Linked DNA regions of Homo sapiens: all the other regions are linked to region 3. Evidence: fine-mapped expression QTL. A gene starts in region 3. Each other region holds a variant in brackets. All regions are shown on one strand. Distances are between the middles of the regions.

Region 1 (5,013 bases), 75 kb after region 3:
AAGAAGCTTGTTAGTGAAAATGGAATAGTATATTACTATTTTGTGATTATTTCTCAGCTTGCTAGAACTGCTAATATCCTTACTGATCTGATCTTTGGCACTATTCCAATTGCTGATGCCCTGGCAGTTGGTTTTCTCAGCCTGAACTGAGTCCAATATTACTTTTTTTTGTAGCTTGTTAAGTGGTTACTGTGGTCTAAATGTGTTCCCTGCCGTCCGTTCCCACTGCCAAATACATACTTTGAAATTTGATTGCCAGTGTATTAAGAGCTGGGGCCTTTGGGCAATGATTAAGTCATGTGGGCGCTGCATAACTTAATCCTGCATGGGATTAGTGGCCTTATAAGAGAGGTTAAAGGGAGTGCCTTGGCCCCTTTGCACCATCTGCAAAGTGAGAATGAGCCTTCACTGGTTATTCACTGGTGCTGTGCTGGCACCTTGATCTTGGGCTTTTTAGCTTCCAGAACTGCTATGAGAAATACATTTCTCATTTAAGATATTAATCATCTTAATAAATTACTCATTTAAGATATTTTGTTATGGCAGCCTGAACGGACTAATAAAATAGTCTTATGGGCTAGCCCATGTCCTGCCTTCTTAGGCCTTCTGTGGGTTTATGCAAAACCTAGGGATTTCCATTGTAGCAAACTCATCTTCCCATGTGATGTCTCTGCCCTCCTTCTTCCTCACCCTGTAATTCTGCCATCTCTTTAGTCTTTTTCTGTGTGATTCAAGTGGTACTGTATTAATTGCAGAATCTGATGCTGGTTCTTTTGTTCAGAGCACTCCCAACCTTTAGGTTGATAGTTGATGAATTATCTTTCCAGAACTTTACTTCTCATCTTGTGTATGTATATGTGTACTATAGATATATGTACACACATATGCAAATATATATAATTTCTAAAAATATAAAACCATACTGTATATGTCTGTGTAATATTTAAAAATGTTTGTCTTTTCAGATGATCTTTGGGTGGTTTCAAAAACCCTAGACTTTGAGCTGGATACTTTTATCGCATGTAGTGCTTTCTTTGGACCATCATCTATCAATGAGATAGAAATACTGCCTTTGAAAGGCTATTTCCCTTCTAATTGGCCCACTAACAGTGAGTATTACTATGCTCATTTTAGTTTATATTTAAAAAGAATGATAGACATAAGATGCACTGTTTGATTAAAGCCAACAAAAAGGACCCAACTCTAGTTTCGACTGTTGTGTACAGTGAGTTCCTGAAAATGTGTATGAAGTTGAATATATAGATATTTCTGTGAGGAAGAATGGTGTGTGGGGGATTGTTTTGTTCTAATTTTCTAATTAGATTATTCTGATTTTCTGTTTTCCATATATTTCTGTGAAGTAATTGAGGAAAAAATGCAAGAAAGTGTTTAAAAATTATACAAATACTACTCTGTGGCACAAGTGATATGTTGATTAAAGGAAACTGCTGGCTGTGAAGTTGTGCTACTAGGTACTAACTCAAAACAGGTGTTCTTGTTCATTTGCTGATATATGGAAGTCCAAATATGATTTAAATTATGCAGTTTATGCATACCCATTATAAAATGAATGAGCAGATAGCATAGTAATTTAATGAATATAAGTTTGGGATCTCTGTGTGTGTTTAAGGGTTTGTTTTATGTCATGTGCTTAATTCAGTAGCTGAACTCTGAGTTATGTGGGCATTTAACACAGAGTTTTTATGGTCCATTTTATTTACATCAAATGTTTATTTTCTGCATCCTCTGTACAGTGGTTGTCCATGCGTTATTGGTTTGTAATGCTAGCACAGAACTGACTACTTTGAAAAACATTCAGGACTACTTTAATCCAGCTACTCTACCTCTAACACAGTACCTGTTAACAACGTAAGTCATTTTTTACCTTTGAGTCATTGGTATTAAAAAATGGTAATCAGAAGTAAATATGAAAATTCAATAAAAGTACAGTATATAAATGTTGCCAATAAAATTGTAATTATTTTTCAGACTATGACATTATTCTCTGTCAGTGGTTAAAAAGAGAAAAGGGGCTGGGTGCAGTGGCTCATGCCTGTAATCCCAGCACTTTGGGAGGCCGAGGTGGGCAGATCACCAGAGGTCGGGAGTTCGAGACCAGCCTGACCAACATGGAGAAACCCTGTCTCTACTAAAAATACAAAATTAGCTGGGCATACTGGCGCATGCCTGTAATCACAGCTATTCGGGAGGCTGAGGCAGGAGAATTGCTTGAACCTGGGAGGCGGAGGTTGCGGTGAGCCGGGTGCCATTGCACCCCAGCCTGGGCAACAAGTGAAACTCTATCTCAAAAAAAAAAAAAAAAAAAAAGAGAAAAGGAATTATGCATTATTTTTCATCTGTTTATTAAGGTTTGAGCTAATAAATGTTACTGTACATTTTCACTTCATCAAGAGATAATTTAAGGATCATTTCAGTATTGATTTTATTTTTTATTATCTGTATTTTTATATTACAAATTATTTAACATTTAAAGGAATCATTTTACAGCTGGAATCCAGTGTGTATATTGCTACTGATTTTATTCTCGATATAGCCATATCTCATTTTGAATTTCTCAAGCACCATGTCCCTTTTTAAAAAATTGGAAGTGATATTATATTAAATGCATTAAAATTGATAGGAAAATCCAGTTTTCAATTTGGAATATTATTATCTACCTGTGATGTTTTATTTTTCTCACTACAATGAAGTCCTAGGTAAAAAAATAAATATCCTTTGATTTCATTATGTTATTTATCCAATTTGAAATGAATTTTCATGGAAATAGAAATAAGACCAATTCATGTGATGTAGTTTTACCTGAAATGAGGGCTAGATTAATTATCTAAGTTAGGTTTGTATAATAGAGCATGGGTTTTAAAGTCAGTCCGCCACTTATTTGTGGTGTGGTATTGGGGGAAAAAATTCAATATTCTTGTATCTGTACTTGGGATAATTAACTA[ACTAT/T]TTCCTAGTGTTGTTGTGAAGATTTCATCAAGTAATATGTAAAATGCTCAACAAAGTGTCAGCATGTAGTAAGTATTCAACAAACGTCAGTTCTCTTCTACCCTCCTCGATATTGGAGTATGTATCCATTTACAGTATATATCCACTTACTGTTTATTTCCATAAAAAACTGTTCTCTGTAATGCTTACAAAGTGATGGCTAAGTTATGAATTATTCTACTCATCTTTTTCAAATGCCCCTTTTTTTAAAATTGTTTATTTGCTTCATTTTTATTAGGTCTTCGCCAACTATAGTTAGTAACAAAAGAGTCAGTAAGAGAAAATTTATCCCACCAGCCTTCACAAATGTCAGTACAAAATTTGAACTACTCAGCCTAGGAGCAACATTGAAGTTAGCTAGTGAGTTGATTCAGGTACACAAGTTAAACAAGGATCAAGCTACAGCTCTAATTCAAATAGCTCAAATGATGGCATCACATGAAAGCATTGAAGAAGTGAAGGAACTGCAAACTCATACCTTCCCTATCACAATCATACATGGTAAGAAGCAAGAAAGAAAATAATTGTAATTGTTTTCTATTTGTAAGCTTTTGTAACTCAGTCTGCTCCTTTATAATTTCCTAGTCAAATGAGGTTCAAGAATAACTCTAAGTAGACTTTTTAAACCTGTACCCACTTTGGTAAACTGTTAGATGAGAACAGAACTGACTACCCTAAAAGGGAGACTTATTAGCATATCTGATGAATGAGTAGCATTATAAACTTATGGTCAAAGTATCCAGATTGATCTAGATGTTTACATGTTGCTCTCCTATAGTAAACTTAACTTGATCAGCAAAACCTTTTATTTATTCCTAGTCAGCTCACTCTTCTATCCTTTATATCAGTGATTACAAACCTTAATTCTTCTCATAACCTCATTCTTGTCCTTTCTCTTGATCTTGCCTCTAAAAGAGGAAATGGAGGTCATAACAGAAACTGCTTTCAATATCCTGCCTTCCTTCTCCAATTTACCTAATTTTGGAGCTATTCTTACCGCTTGGTTCTGTCACAGTGAAGGCGATTTACTTCCTCCTGCTTACAGTAAATAGTTCTATCTGGACTCTGTTGCCTCTGTAGCACATTTTCTCTCATAGACCTCCACCCCAAAGCTAATCCTACTTTTCTGTCCTATTTTGAGGAATTATGTCATATCCACCCTGTTGACCAAATCAAATCTGAGAGTGATCGTAGATTTTTCTTTCTCTCAAGATTAAGTGACTCTCTCTTAATCCTCCTCATATTCTCTCACTATTCATCTCCCGCCATCAGATTAGTCACTGAGATGTGTTCCTTCTAGCTTCTATCCATCTTTCATATTGAGTGTCTCTTCTCCAGTTTACTTGTATCCCCTCAATCCAAGCCTTCATCATACCTCCATATAGCCTAGTGGGTAAGAGTGTGGGGTCTAGAGTTAGAATCCTGAATTTACGTTCTGACTGTATCATTTGTTAGCTGTATGATTTTGGGCAGGTTATATATCTCTTAATCTTTAATTTCCTACTCTGCAAAATGGAGATCATAATAGCATTCACCTCATAGGGTTGGAGGATTAAATGAGTTAACATACATAAAGGGCTTAGAACAGTGCTTGGCACATGGGAGGTGCTTAGTAAAGTTAACATTTATTGTTGTAATTATCTCACACAACTTTCTAATTGATCTACCACTAGTTTTGCCTTACTTCATATTTTCATTCAAGTTGTTTTTTAAAAACACAATCTGATTAAGTCAAACCCATTGCTTGGCCTCACACCTGTAATCCCAGCACTTTGGGAGGTCAGGGAGGGTAGCTCGCTTAAGCTCAGGAGTTCAAGGTCAGCCTGGGCAACATGGCAAAATGCTGTCTCTACAAAAAAATTTAAAAATTAGCTGGACATGGAGGCATGCACCTGTAGTCCCAGCTACTTTGGAGGTTGTGGTGGGAGGATGGCTTGAGCCTGGGAGGCAGAGGTTGCAGTGAGTCACGATTGCGCCACTGCACTCCAGCCTGGGCAACAGAGCCAG
Region 2 (5,013 bases), 39 kb after region 3:
GGGAGATTGAGGCTGCCTTGAGCCATGATCATGCCACCACACTGGGTGACAGAGTGAGATCCTGTATCAAAGAAAAAAAAACATTACCTCAAGATCATGAAGATATTCTCTCATATTATCTTGTACAAGCTTTATTAATTTACATTTCACATTTTGATCTACAGTTTACCTGTAATTGATTTTTATGTATTGAGTACATTTTATGTAAAGTTACATGTTTTCTCCATATGAATATTCAGTTGACCCAGCACCATTTATTGAAAAAGCTATCTTTTCTTCATTCCTTTGCCATGAATCAAGGGTCCATATATTAAGGGTCTCTTATTAGTTTCTCTTCTGATTTATTGGTCTGCAATTTCAGAAGTCACAAAGCATGTGTTTTCTTTCTTTCTTCCTTTTTTTTTAAACAGAATCTCACTGTGTCACCCAGGCTGAAGTGCAGTGGCATTATACAGGCTCATTGCAGCTTCAAACTCCTGGGCTCAAGTGATCCTCCCTCCACAGCCTCCCAAGTAGCTGAGACTGTAGGCACACACCACCATGCCTGGCTAATTTTTTTTTTTTTTTTTTAGACACAGGGTCTTGCTATATTGCCAGGCTGGTCTCAAACTCCTGACTCAAGCAGTCCTCTCACCTTGGTCTTCCAAAGTGCTGGGACTGTAGGCGTGAGCCACAGTGGCTGGCCTATGTACTTCCTATGTATCTTTAAATCTTCCCACCTCATTCTTCTCATTTTTTTACATTTGCATATATGTTTAGAACTAGCTTAATGGTTTTCACACATACAAGCTGGGAATTTGGATGAAATTCCATTGTGCATGTCAATTTTGGGCAGAATTAACATTTTTATAATATGTTATTGATAAATTTTCAATATTATAAAAATATTTCCCTCTATTTCAATCTGCTGCAATATCTTCCAGTAATGTTTTACAGTTTTGGTATAGAGGTTCTCTATATATTATTTGTATATTTGATTTGTAGGAGCTCTTCGCTCTTTACATACTAAGAAAATTAACCCTTTGTCATTTTTTTCCACTACATTAGTGCTTTGACTCTGATTTTTTTGTTTTTGAGAAGGAGCCTCACTCTGTTGCCCAAGCTGGAGTGCAGTGGCATGATATTGGCTCACTGCAACCTCTGTCTCCCAGGCTCAAGTGATTCCCCCACCTTAGCCTCCTGAGTAGCTGGGACTACAGGTACACACCACCAAACCTCGCTAATTTTTAAATTTTTTATAGAGATAGGGTTTTACCATGTTGCCCAGGCTGGTCTTGAACTCCTGGGCTCAACCGATACACCTGCCTTGACCCCCCAAAGTGTTGGGATTCTAGGCATCTGACACCGTGACTGGCCTGATTATGATTTTTCTAAAATTAAATGTTTTAATTTATGTAATAAGATTTGTCAGTGTTTTTTGTGATTTCTGGAGCTCAGAACTCTTTTTCACTTAATGTTTTTAATTAATAAAAACATTATTTTATTATTAATTAATAAAAGCACCTTGATGCTTTTAATAACTATTGTGATTTTGCACTGTCTTTAGCAAGAGCTAATGATTACAGTGGCTACAGTAAAATTAGTTGTTTCTGAATCCCTCCTTTATATTCTTCCAGGCACCTATAATATTAAGTTATATTATAACTTTAAGATAAATATATATTCAATGTTTTCGTTATTATAAATGTTTTAATATTTTCACTGCTGAGCCAATTGGTATACTATGATTACATTTTCTTCCCTTTATAACTTTGGGTTTTTCCGGTTTATAATTGTCTCTTTTTAAAATTTGCTTAGTGTTTTTTGAATACTGGGGCAAAGTTTTTCCATACCCTCAAAAAGCTGTATAAAATACTCCTTAATACAGGAATTCACACATACTTTTCATATAATCTGTGTCAGTTCCATTATTTTCCTATGGCATCTTTTCCAGGTTTTTCATCTGCCTGCTTCAGTATGCACTGTATAATTGACAACTTAAGAATGCCCATTGCTGCCTTCCTAGCATGAGTTGCTTACATCTTGAACACC[A/CA]TGTCTCCTTTCTTGTTATGCTGGAGTACATCTTTGAATACCTCCAAAGAAAGGGAGCAAGGGGAGATAAAATTTGGGAGACTTTGCATGTTGAAAATGGTTTTTTTTGCTTTCATACTTGATTGATAGTTTGACTTAGTGTAGAATTTGGATATGATCTGCTTTATTCTTTTTTTTTTTTTTTTCAGTGTGTGTGTGTGTGGGTACATTTTGAGACAGTCTGGCTCTGTCACCCAGGCCGGAGTGAAGTGGCACGATCTCGGCTCACTGCAACCTCTGTCTCCCAGGCTTAAGCGATTCTCCTGCCTCAGCCTCCCGAGTAGCTGGGGCCACAGGCACGCACCACCACGTCCAGCTAATTTTTTTTTGGTATTTTTAGTAGAGACAGGGTTTCTCCATCTTGGCCAGGCTGGTCTTGAACTCCTGACCTCAAATGATCCACTCACCTCAGCCTCCAAAAGTGCTGGGATTACAGGAGTGAACCACTGTGCCCACTTCTTTGTAATTTAAATTTAGCAGTGCCTTCTCTCTCTAGAATTATTATTACTATTACTATTATTATTATTATTAGAGACAAGGTCTCACTCTCTTCCTTAGGCTGGAGTGCAGTGGCACAATTATAACTCACTGTAGCCTCAAACTCCTGGGCCCAAGCCAACCTCCTGCCTCAGCCTCCTGGGTAGCTGGGATTACAGATGCACACCACCACACCTGGCTAATTTTTAAAAACTTTTTCTAGAGATGGGGTCTTCCTATGTTTTCTGGGTCTCAAACTCCTGCCCTCAAGTGTTCCTGCTGCCTCAGCCTCCCAAAGTGCTGGGATTATAGGTGTGAGCACAGTGCCTGACCCTCCCTCTAGAATTTTTTTTTTTTTTTTTTTTAGATGGAGTTTGGCTCTGTCACCCAGGCTGGAGTGCAGTGGTGTGATCTCGGCTCACTGCAACCTCCGCCTCTTGGGTTCAAGTGATTATTCTGCCTCAGCCTCCCAAGAAGCTGGGACTACAGGCGTGCACCACCACACCTGGCTAATTTTTGTATTTTTAATGGAGACAGGGTTTCACTATGTTGACCAGAATGGCCTCAAACTTCTGACCTTAAGTGATCCGCCTGTCTCAGCCTCCCAAAGTGCTAGGATTACAGGCATGAACTGCTGTGCCCGGCACAGAAACTTTTAATGACTTTAAAAAAATTCCTGGCCATGCACAGTGGCCTCCCAAAGTGCTAGATAATCCCAGCACTTGGGGAGGTCGAGGTGGGCAGATCACCTGAGCTCAGGAGTTCGAGACCATCCTGGGCAACGGGGCAAAACCCTGTCTCTACACAAAATTAAAAATTAGCCAGGCGTGGTGGCATGTGCCTGTAATCCCAGCTACTTGGGAGGCTAAGGCAGGAGAATCCCTTGAGCCTGGGAGGTAGAGGTTGCAATGAGCTGAGATTGTGCCAGTGCCCTCCAGCTTGGGCAACAGAGTGAGACCCAGTTTCCAACAACAAAAAAAAAAATCCTGATATTCTGAAATTTCGCTGTCATGTGCTTTCCTTCAGGTTTCATTAATACACTGTACTCAGTGGGTCTTTTCATCCTGTAAATACAAATCTACTTGTCTTATGAAACTTTTTAAAAAATATATTTCTTTGTTGCTTTTCCCCCCAGTGTTTTCTAGATTTTCTTTCTCGAATCTTCTATCAAATATTTTAGTCCATTGTATCCTACTTTCAGCAACACCTGTGGCCTTCAGTTTCTGAGCCCTTCCATGGTTATTGGGGCAAATCAGTTTACTTCTTATTGGGCTTTCCTTTACTAGGTGCTTTGGTTAGATTTTCTTGATATTGCCAAGTCTATACTATTCCCCATCTTCTTAATATTGTATTGTAATTCAGGATTGCCATTGCTTCTTAGTTTCATCAAAGATGGAGTTTCTGTTTCTCATCCTCTGTATATTTTGAGAGGAGAACAAAATTTAGAGGTATTCCATATTGAAAAAGAAACTTATGTCCATTATTTTTATTTCTAGTTATTGTTATCTACATCAGTTATGATTATATGCTTTATATTCTGAGTTTACAAAAATGTTCTAAAACAAAATGATTAGATCTACAAACAGATAAGTGCTTTTTTGAATAAGCGTGACATTGCTTGCATGTAGCAATCTCTGGACTTACAAGAAATTCTGTATTTTTATCAAATTCTGAGATACTACTACTGTAAAAAGCACCAGTTTGTTATACAGCACTAAGAAAGAAGAGTAGTCATTTAGACATTACACAATGTTTTTTATCCTAGACTTTAAAAACATTATAAAATATTTATTGTGGTGAAAACCATATATCATAAAATTTACTATTTCAACCAGTTCAGTAGTGTTAAGTATACTTACGTTGTTTTGAAATGGATCTCCAGAATTTTTTAATCTTCACTTAGACTTCTAATGTTATATTTATTGAAAGAATGCTTTTAAGCTTATTTGGGCATACATATATTTTGATATATATATAAATACACACACACACACACATATATACACACAAACATATATATTTATGTTTTGTAGAGACTGGCTCTCACTATGTTGCCCAGGCTGGTCTCCTATCCTCAAGCGATCCTTTTGCCTTCGCCTTCCAAAGTGCAGGGTTTATAGACGTGAGCCACTATGCTGTGTTGGGCACAGTTTTTAATTGTATATTACACTGCTTTGTTCTCTTGCCTTTCTTTGAACATAATAATTTTTTGTTCAGGGCTAAATCATAGTATAATCTTTTGAAGACATTTAAACAGCAAAATTACTTAGAACGTGTTTGATATTAGCAATGCACAGACCAATTCATATTTAAGTGATTATTAAGATGAACAGCATGACTAATTTGCATACATTTGCACATGTACAGGCAATGACAACTATGTCACAACTGTTGCCTGTGCTATAGAGATGTAAAAATGTCATCACTTTTAAAGTGTTTCCCTATTTCAAAGACATTAAAATGTAA
Region 3 (5,013 bases):
TGAAGAATAAAAGTTATTGGGTAACAATACCAGTAACTTTATATACACTTTTGTAAATCCTCACAATCCCACTAGGTAGCAGTTTCTTCCATCTTAACACAAAAACTCAAAAAGGTTTAAGTGACTTGGCCAAAGCTAGCTAAGTAAGTTGTCCCAGGTATGTTTGATCCCACATTGTCTACCTTTTGGTAGAATTTCCCGCAATTTATCACCACGGACTCTATGTTCTGACTCAGGAATTCTTAATCTGAAGTCCATGCAACTTTGGCTGGACAAGAATTCTAGTGGGCTCCATTAAATTGTAAATGATACATTTTAAAGATAAGGTAAAATCAAGACTCTTGTACAAATATAAAATGAATACACGGTAAAGATTTAAGCACAGTCATGGGTTGCTTAACGACAAGGACACATTCTGAGAAATGCACAGTCAGGTGAGTAAGTACATCATTGAGTATGTAGTTATTCTATGATGTATTCACACAAACCTAGGTACTATTGCCTATTACTCACCTATAATCTTATGGGACCACTGTCATACATGCGGTCTGTCGGTATGTGGTGCTTGACTGTAAATAAGGGAACCAGTTAAGTGCTAAAAACCAGTTCAAAGGAGAATTTAAAAAGCAGGTACACAGGCAATCAGGAACGTTGAAATGAATATTAATAAATACTGCTCAGGACAATAATTAATTGCATCTTTACTGGACAAACCTAATTTCCATGTTGCTGTAGCGAGTTACAGGGTTGAAAAATAGTTCAAAGACCACGAAAGACATAGATAACTTGGAAGAGTGAGTCAGACAAGACACCAAGTCATTTGTGTGTGTTTGCTATTTAAAAGTATTTCGTAATTTCTCCTGAGGAAATTATATGAAAAATGTTTGTTTGGAGACGCAGCCTCTCTCAGTGGCCCAGGCTGCAGTGCAGTGGCGCGATCCCGGCTCACTGTAATCTCTGCTTCCCGAGTTCAAGCGATTCTCCCAACCAAGCCTCTTGAGTAGCTGGGACTACAGGTGTGCACCACCACTCCCCGCTAATTTTTGTGTTTTTAGTAGAGACGAGATTTTGCCATATTGGCCAGGCTGGTCTCGAACTCCTGACCTCAAGTGATCCTCCCGCGTCGGCCTCCCAAAGTGCTGGGATTACAGGCGTGAGCCACCGTGCCCAGCCTCGCAAAATGTTTTAATAGGTACATGCACGTTTTCCTGAGAAGCTAATCCATATAATTAAGTTTTCAAAAGAAGTGTGCCACAACAGGTTAAGAATCATTGTTCTGGTCACTGCTTACAACTCAAGTCCCTCAACACGTAGTGGCCTGTGTGTTCTGCTTTGTCTGAATCTTCTCGTCTAAATTTCCTTATTAAATTTTCAAGGCCCAGGTTAAATGGCATCTTACTCTTTGAGATCTTCCACCACCCTGTGTCCTATCATTTGTTTTCTCTTAAGTTTCTTTGCAAACGCACTCTGCACACCATATCTAGCAAGTGTTAGTTCCCTTCCGTAACTGGATTTTTTACTCTTTGAGGACGATGGCAGAGTCCTGCAAAAGAAGATGATAATTTTAGAATATAAATCCTCACGTTCGCTATCTTCTGGCAGCCACAGCTCAGCTCCAATCTGCGAAATACGGCACTCTCTTTATTGACTACTGCTTCTCTCGGCACCCGTACTTCCGCAAGGACGCCGTCATAGGCCGGGCGCGCCCCAAACCTCCCCACGCCGGGCCCCTATGCGCCCTTACTGTCTGAAAACGGGAACTACAAGTGCTGCCGAAGACTTTTGCGCGTGCGCATAGATAACTAGGCCAAGGAACTGATGGGTGTGCAGGACGGGGGGGCGGGGTAAGAAGGACGATAGATGATAGAGTGGACCGCAAGAAAAAGGACGGAGAGTTAATTAGACTTCGCCCAAGCTGTGCGACCCTATAGGCCGCTTGTAACTTACTCCGTTCGACTCCCAAAATACAGGGTCAAGTACTGCGGCCTTCGGACATTTCCGTCTCCGGATCCTGATAGTCTCGGTTACTTTCGCGTCATAGGATGAGCGACAACGTTTTCCGGTCCCAATTGAGAAAGACGGGCCCGGAGGCAGTGCGCGCTCCACCTACGTCACAGGCGAGGTGGTTCCAGGAGGGCTGGGCATCGGAGAGCGCGGCCGGCTGAGAGACTCGAAGCCAAGGAAGAATTTGATTGGCGATTTGAAAGCGGCGGTTTTTGGCTTAGGCGGAGGTGGGCGGGCCAAGTTTTGGGTCCTCATCTGGTGAGGTCCCGCGTTAATGACGTCACGTTGTTTCGCGGGAGAAATTCGAAAGTGGATTTTGTGCAATTTGACAGGTGAGGTGAAGTGTTTCTCGGGATTTCCTAGGAATGACTTGAGCGATTTGGGGCGAAGGGACGAAAGACTCTGCTCCTTAAGAAGAGAACCGGGAAGGATGCTGTTTGGAACCAGGATTGGGGTGGTCGCAGTCACAGCTACTCGGACTGCTTGTAGTAAGTGGTGCCTCTTCACCGTTTTTCCCAGGCCTTGCTTTGCAATTTCGAGTAGGTATGAGGACCAAAGAGGGCTTTGCTGTTTGTATTTAGGACTGAGAAAGGATCAAGTCTCCATTGTCATTTGGTGACAGGATTATGGTTCTTAGAATCTTGGCAAATGAGATGTGGGTTTCCTTTGTTTATTTGGACTGGATGGTTTGTTAACAATGTTGAGTTCATGATTCCAAAACTTTGTTATCCGAACTATTTAGAGGTTCAGGTTTAGGTTCAAAAAATACTCCTTGTTTAAAAAAAAAGGAAAAATATCTAGTATTTAAATGAATAATGGCTCATACTTTACTGAGAACACCGAGTTTTATGTATATATATTGCGTCCGTACATATAGTAGCACAATGTATATGTATGTATATGTGTGTATGTACGTATATCTGTGTGTATGTATGTATGTATATAATTATCACAGAGCATCTGGGGTCTTTAAAAACTTATTTGGAGATTAATCTTTCACCTATTAGAAGTCGGTCAACAGGTGAATTGTCTGGTAGACGTGGACAGATGAACACTTGGAAAAAACTCTTTGCATCTCACTTAAATATATATGATGCTGTTGTCTAAAATAATTTTTTCTGATTAATACTAAGATAAGAAAGGGTGTTGACTTTCAATGAATAAGTATTAGAGCTCTTCTAAATTTTAAAAGATCCAGTTAGCTTTTTTTTTTTAGGTTTTCTCCTATAATCGAATTTAACCATCCTTTAAGAGTTTCAGTCTTCTTAGTTCTTTTTAAACTGTACATTCCAGAAGTAATATCTCAATTTAGGAAAATAATGGAGAATTTATCTTGCAATTGTGAAATAGCATATAAGTTATCCTAAACTAGTAAATACTGGGTTCCTAATCTGTAAATTGTAATAATGCTTATTCTTCAGGATTATGAGACTGATAAATACTGTATGTAAAGTATCTCGTCCAATTCCTGCCTGATACATAGTATGTAATCAATAAATATATATAATTACACACGATAATCATATAATTGTATATTACATAATACAGTAATATAGTTATATATTATATAATTACATAATAATTATAATGTATATAATTAACAATATAATGTATATAATGTTTATAATATAGCACTTTGGGAGGCTGGAAGGATTGCTTGAGCCCAGGAGTTTGAGGCCACAGCGAGCTATGATTGCAACACTGCACTCCAGCCTAGGTGACAGAGTGAGACCCTGTCTCTGTAAAAGAAAAAGAAAAGTTAAAAAGCCAACAGAAACAAAACCTCCAAATAAAGCATTTAACAGTTTCTAGCATATGGTAGCACTGAATAAATGGTAGCTATTAAACAGATCTGATATTAATAATTGCCACATGCCCAGCACTGTGTCTGTACCATGTATTCTCATCTATGTATACAGCATATCTAGCCCAGGAGTGTTTTTCTCGATCTCTCTTTTATCTTCTTGGCATTCTTAGGCATCAGCAATTTATGTACGCCGGAGGGGAGGGAGATAGGATGTGGAAGTTGTATTTCTTTTTTTTTTTTTTTTTTGAGATGGAGTCTCGCTCTGTCGCCCAGGCTGGAGTGCAGTGGCGTGATCTCTGCTCACTGCAACCTCCGCCTCCCGGGTTCAAGCAATTCTCCTGCCTCAGCCTCCTGAGTAGCTGGGACTACAGGCCTGTGCCACCATGCCCAGCTAATTTTTGTATTTTTAGTAGAGACGGGGTTTCACCATGTTGGTCAGGCTGGTCTCGAGCGCCTGACCTCATGATCCACCCGCCATGGCCTCCCAGAGTGCTGGGATTACAGGCGTGAGTCACCACACCCGGCCAGGAGTTATATTTCTGAAAGGCAGTCCTTCTGTAGGTTTGGTTTCTGTCCTGTGACCTGTGTCACGAAGCAAGTATGCATATCTCATTTGCATACCCCTTACCTATTCTTTCTCCAGATCACCTTGATTAGTCAAGGGAAGATGCCAGTCACTTTCTTGCACTTCACCGCCCCCGCCTCGCCCTTTTATTTTTTTTTTTTGAGACAGTTTTGCTCTTGTCGCCCAGGCTGGAGTGCAGTGGCGTGATCTCGGCTCACTGCAGCCTCTGCCTCCTGGGTTCAAGTGATTCTCCTGCCTCAGCCTCCCAAGTAGCTGGGATTATAGGCACGCACCACCACACCTGGCTAATTTTTGTATTTTTAGTAGAGACAGGGGTTTCACCATGTTGGCCAGGCTGGTCTCGAACTCCTGACCTCAGGTGATCCACCTGTCTCGGCCTCCCAAAGTGCTGGGATCACAGGCCTGCAATTCTTGTTTGGGAAGACCTTCACTGGCCTTCCCTTGACTAAGGGTTATTTCAGCTTACAGCTTAGACTTTACTTCCTTGAAGAAGCCTTGTTTGATGATCCACACCAAGCTGGGTGCCCCTGCTGTGCTTATTCCTGCCTTATTTTATTAAAATTACTGTTTATCACCCCGCCATACTGAAATTCCTTCAGATGGAGGATAGAGTTTC
Region 4 (5,013 bases), 55 kb after region 3:
AAGGGCTAGGTTACAGAGTAGAAAATGTATCATCTGAGTTTTGTGTAAAAAAAATTTACATGTGTTTGTTCTTTTTGGGTTGTGGTGTGTGTGTACTTACGCGAATGAGAAAAAAGGATAGAAATAAATGGATAAGATATTCAGTGTTTCTGGACAGTTTTCAGGTTGTTTATAGTGAACATTTTAAATCAGAAAAACAAATTTTCAAATAAGCTTTTATTCTCAGAATAATGTAATCTTTTGATAAAGAGAAAGTAAATGGAAAAGTAGGTGGTTTTAAATTTTAAATTAATGATAAAGTTAAGTCATATAGTGACTAATTTACTGGAGTACAGTAATGCCAAGCAGTCTTCATAGAAGCCTTGACAAACACAAAAATAATCGAAAAATAAAAGCATTTTTTTCACTAAATGTTGATCTTTTTTCTTTCCCCTTAGGGTCGTCTCTTTTATACATGTGATGGACCCAAAGCTGATCGATGTAAATTCTTTAAATGGCTTGAGGACGTGACTCCAGGATATTCAACACAGGAAGGAGCTCGACCTGGCATGGTTTTAAGTGATATTAAGAGTATTGGCTTATATTTAAGAAGTCAAAAGATACCACTTTATGAGGAATGCCAGCTTTTGGTGAGGTATGTTTTATAGTACCAAATAATTGCCTGTGATTATATAAGAGAACAACAGCCTTCACAGAACTATCATCAGTTTTAAAAGAGATTAAGATAGGAAAACTATTTAAAAGATGGAATACCTCAGTTTCTAAACCTGCAAAATGGGAATAAGTCTTTTTTTTTTTAATTATATAGTTACAAGCTCTTGCTCTGTTGCCCAGGCTGGAGTGCAGTGGTGTGATCCTTAGCTCACTGCAACCTTCAACTCCTGGGCTGAAGCTCTCCACCCACCTCAGCCTCCTGAGTAGCTAGGACTTCAGGCACATGCCACCATGCCCAGCTAATTTGAAATTTTTGTAGAGTTGGGGTCTTGCTATGTTGCCCAGGCTAGTTTCAAACTCCTGGACTCAAATGATCCTCCCATCTCACCCTCCCAAAGTGCTGGAATTAGAGGTGTGAGCTATCATGCTCGGCCAGGGAATAAGTCTTTAAAGTTATTTCGGCTCCCTCTAAACATCAAACAATGTCAGCAATATCAGGATAACTAGCAGGGTGCTATTTTTCTAACTTATTTTGTATATAGTCGGGGCTATTTTCCACAATCCTAAGGGAAACCCTATCCGACAAACTATAGGAATAATTTTTAGCAGTGTGGCATAATAAATAAGTGATCATTTGCATGTCTGAACTACATAGCTTATAGGGTAATAGAATGCTACTTTTTGGAAGTATGTCTTATAAAAGTTTAGATTATTCAAAATAAATATAATGACTATTTGCATGGTGATTTAGTAGTAAGATTTTTATTCGGAGCTGATATATGCCAGGCCCTCTTCTAACTAGGCACTTCGCATGAATTATTTTATGCAATTATTATAATAGCCCGTAAGATGGAGATATCGGAATAAGTTATTCCCGTTTTATAGTTTAGAAAATGAGGTTCCGCAAAAAAATAAAAATAGAACTATCATATGATCCAGCAATCCCATTCTTGGGTATGTATCCAAAAGAAAGGAAATAAGTATATCAAAGAGATACCTGCACTTTCATGTTTATTTCAGCAGTATTCACAATAGCCAAGATATGGAATCAACCTAAGTGTCCATCAATGGATGAATGGATAAAGAAAATGTGGTATGTAAACACACACACACAATGGGATCTTACTCAGCCATAAAAAAGAATGAAATCTTGTCATTTGCAGCAACTGGAGGTCATTATGTTAAGTGAAATAAACCAAAGGCCAGGCATGATCTCACGCCTGTAATCCCAGAACTTTGGGAGGCTAAGGTGGGTGAATCACTTGAACACAGGAGTACCAGACCAGCCTGGGCAACATGATGAAACGTCGTCTCATGAAACCTCGTCTCTACAAAAATTAGCCAGGTGTGGTGGCCTGCACCTGTAGTCCCAGCTACTTGGGAGGCTGAGACGGGAGGATGGCTTGAGCCCAAGGAGGTGGAGGTTGCAGTGAGCCAAGGTCATGCCACTGCACTTCCAGCCTGGGCAACAAAGCCAGACTCTGTCTCAAAAAAAAAGGAAAAAGCCAGATATAGAAAGACAAATATTGCATGTTCTTACTCATGTGTGGAGCTAAAAAAGCAGATCTCATGGAAGTAAGAGAATAGAATGATGGTTACCAGAGGCTGGGAAGAAAAGGGGGTGGGAAATGAAGAGAGGTTGGTTAAAGTGTTAAAAAAAAAAAAAAA[AG/G]GAATACAGTAGGGAAATTATAGTTAACAATAATTTATTGTATATATCAGAATAACTAGAAGAGAAGAATTGTAATGTTCCCAACACAAAGAAAAGATCAGTGTTTGAAGTGATGAATATCCCAGTTTCCCTGATTTGATCTGATCATTACACAATGTGTAAAGGTATCAGGATATCACATGTACTCCCAAAATATGTGTAACTATTATATACCAATAAACAAAATTAAATTTAAAAATTTTAAAAAGCACACGAGGTGTTCTATCTTTTAGATACTTTTCTATCTCAGTCTCTTCTAAAACTGATGACAGTTCTGTGACAGTTGTTATTTTCTTACTTTGATACAGTATATTTATATTTTGTATACATGTATGAAACTAGGTAAACATATGAAACCCTGGTTCTTTTCATACTGTATTTTAAAGATTTTCAAAAAACTTGCATCTTAATATTACAATTCATTTTTATTTTTTATTCCCTTTTCAGAAAAGGATTTGATTTTCAGAGAAAACAGTATGGCAAACTAAAGAAGTTTACTACTGTAAATCCTGAGTTTTATAATGAACCAAAAACCAAACTTTATCTTAAGCTAAGTCGGAAGGAAAGATCTTCAGCTTATAGCAAAAGTAAGTTGATCTGATCATACTGGCGATTCAGTCTAGCCTTATTATCTCCATTACATACAGCTGTATAAATTGTTTATATTAAAGAATTTTATATTAAATTTTAAAAGTATAATTTAATAGTAATATGTATTATAAACTAATTGTATAATAAATTAGACCACTTCTAAAAAACATATTTTTAAGATATTAGGGCTTTTTATTTTTATTTTTTTATTTATTTTTATTTTTATTTTTATTATACTTTAAGTTTTAGGGTACATGTGCACAACGTGTAGGTTTGTTACATGTGTATACATGTGCCATGTTGGTGTGCTGCACCCATTAACTCATCATTTAACATTAGGTATATCTCCTAATGCTATCCCTCCCCCCTCCCCCCACCCCACAACAGGCCCCAGTGTGTGATGTTCCCCTTCCTGTGTCCATGTGTTCTCATTGTTCAGTTCCCACCTATGAGTGAGAACATGCGGTGTTTGGTTTTTTGTCCTTGCGATAGTTTGCTGAGAATGATGGTTTCCAGCTTCATCCATGTCCCTACAGAGGACATGAACTCATCCTTTTTTATGGCTGCATAGTACTCCGTGGTGTATATGTGCCACATTTTCTTAATCCAGTCTATCACTGATGGACATTTGGGTTGGTTCCAAGTTTTTGCTATTGTGAATAGTGCTGCAATAAACATACATGTGCATGTGTCTTTATAGCAGCATGTTTTATAATCCTTTGGGTATATACCCAGTAATGGGATGGCTGGGTCAAATGGTATTTCTAGTTCTAGATCCCTGAGGAATCACCACACTGACTTCCACAATGGTTGAACTAGTTTACAGTCCCACCAACAGTGTAAAAGTGTTCCTATTTCTCCACATCCTCTCCAGCACCTGTTGTTTCCTGACTTTTTAGTGATCGCCATTCTTACTGGTGTGAGATGGTATCTCATTGTGGTTTTGATTTGCAGTTCTCTGATGGCCAGTGATGATGAGCATTTTTTCATGTGTCTTTTGGCTGCATAAATGTCTTCTTTTGAGAAGTGTCTTTTCATATCCTTTGCCCACTTTTTGATGGGGTTGTTTGTTTTTTTCTTGTAAATTTGTTTGAGTTCATTGTAGATTCTAGATATTAGCCCTTTGTCAGATGAGTAGATTGCAAAAATTTTCTCCCATTCTGTAGGTTGCCTGTTCACTCTGATGGTAGTTTCTTTTGCTGTGCAGAAGCTCTTTAGTTTAATTAGATCCCATTTGTCAATTTTGTCTTTTGTTGCCATTGCTTTTCGTGTTTTAGACATGAAGTCCTTGCCCATGCCTATGTCCTGAATGGTATTGCCTAGGTTTTCTTCTAGGGTTTTTATGGTTTTAGGTCTAACATTTAAGTCTTTAATCCATTTTGAATTAATTTTTGTATAAGGTGTAAGGAAGGGATCCAGTTTCAGCTTTCTACATATGGCTAGCCAGTTTTCCCAGCAACATTTGTTAAATAGGGAATCCTTTCCCATTTGCTTGTTTTTGTCAGGTTTGTCAAAGATCAGATAGTTGTAGGTATGCGGCATTATTTCTGAGGGCTCTGTTCTGTTCCATTGGTCTATATCTCTGTTTTGGTACCAGTACCATGCTGTTTTGGTTACTGTAGTATAGTTTGTAGTATAGTTTGAAGTCAGGTAGCGTGATGCCTCCAGCTTTGTTCTTTTGGCTTAGGATCGACTTAGCAATGTGGGCTCTTTTTTGGTTCCATGTGAACTTCAAAGTAGTTTTTTCCAATTCTGTGAAGAAAGTCATTGGTAGCTTGATGGGGATGGCATTGAATCTGTAAATTACCTTGGGCAGTATGGCCGTTTTCACAATATTGATTCTTCCTACCCATGAGCTTGGAATGTTCTTCCATTTGTTTGTATCCTCTTTTATTTCATTGAGCAGTGGTTTGTAGTTCTCCTTGAAGAGGTCCTTCACGTCCCTTGTAAGTTGGATTCCTAGGTATTTTATTCTCTTTGAAGCAATTGTGAATGGGAGTTCACTCATGATTTGGCTCTCTGTTTGTCTGTTATTGGTGTATAAGAATGCTTATGATTTT

Direction of the effects. Positions count from the first base shown, and alleles are read on the strand shown. Sizes are in standard deviations (SD) of each study's normalised expression. Not every link is listed here.
For the expression in testis of the gene that starts at base 2,278 in region 3, allele CA in region 2 goes with a lower level than allele A (small effect, 0.28 SD a copy in GTEx).
For the expression in prefrontal cortex of the gene that starts at base 2,278 in region 3, G is the low allele of the variant in region 4 and AG is the other (moderate effect, 0.52 SD a copy in CommonMind).

Evidence for each region.
Region 1: its variant is fine-mapped to the expression of ZGRF1 in tibial nerve (GTEx, PIP above 0.99). The same link has a PIP of 0.9 or more in esophagus muscle, gastroesophageal junction, sun-exposed skin and whole blood.
Region 2: its variant is fine-mapped to the expression of ZGRF1 in testis (GTEx, PIP 0.94).
Region 4: its variant is fine-mapped to the expression of ZGRF1 in prefrontal cortex (CommonMind, PIP 0.95).

What each region holds. Positions count from the first base shown.
Region 1 is chr4:112,559,227-112,564,239 of GRCh38, reverse strand. It overlaps ZGRF1 (zinc finger GRF-type containing 1), which reads left to right. Exons shown (of 28, transcript NM_018392.5): 17 at 966-1,109; 18 at 1,755-1,869; 19 at 3,245-3,507. Among named protein-coding and RNA genes, the nearest start is that of NEUROG2, 46 kb to the right of the region's middle. The variant ACTAT/T (reference allele first, on the strand shown) is at 2,964.
Region 2 is chr4:112,595,112-112,600,124 of GRCh38, reverse strand. The region is part of intron 10 of ZGRF1 (zinc finger GRF-type containing 1); the gene reads left to right. Among named protein-coding and RNA genes, the nearest start is that of ZGRF1, 39 kb to the left of the region's middle. The variant A/CA (reference allele first, on the strand shown) is at 2,032.
Region 3 is chr4:112,634,174-112,639,186 of GRCh38, reverse strand. ZGRF1 (zinc finger GRF-type containing 1) reads left to right here and starts at 2,278. Exons shown (of 28, transcript NM_018392.5): 1 at 2,278-2,336. It overlaps LARP7 (La ribonucleoprotein 7, transcriptional regulator), which reads right to left and starts at 2,044. Exons shown (of 13, transcript NM_016648.4): 1 at 1,948-2,044. RefSeq lists enhancers at 1,492-1,601, 1,642-1,691, 2,262-2,481.
Region 4 is chr4:112,579,599-112,584,611 of GRCh38, reverse strand. ZGRF1 (zinc finger GRF-type containing 1) reads left to right here. Exons shown (of 28, transcript NM_018392.5): 15 at 438-634; 16 at 2,810-2,949. Among named protein-coding and RNA genes, the nearest start is that of ZGRF1, 55 kb to the left of the region's middle. The variant AG/G (reference allele first, on the strand shown) is at 2,323.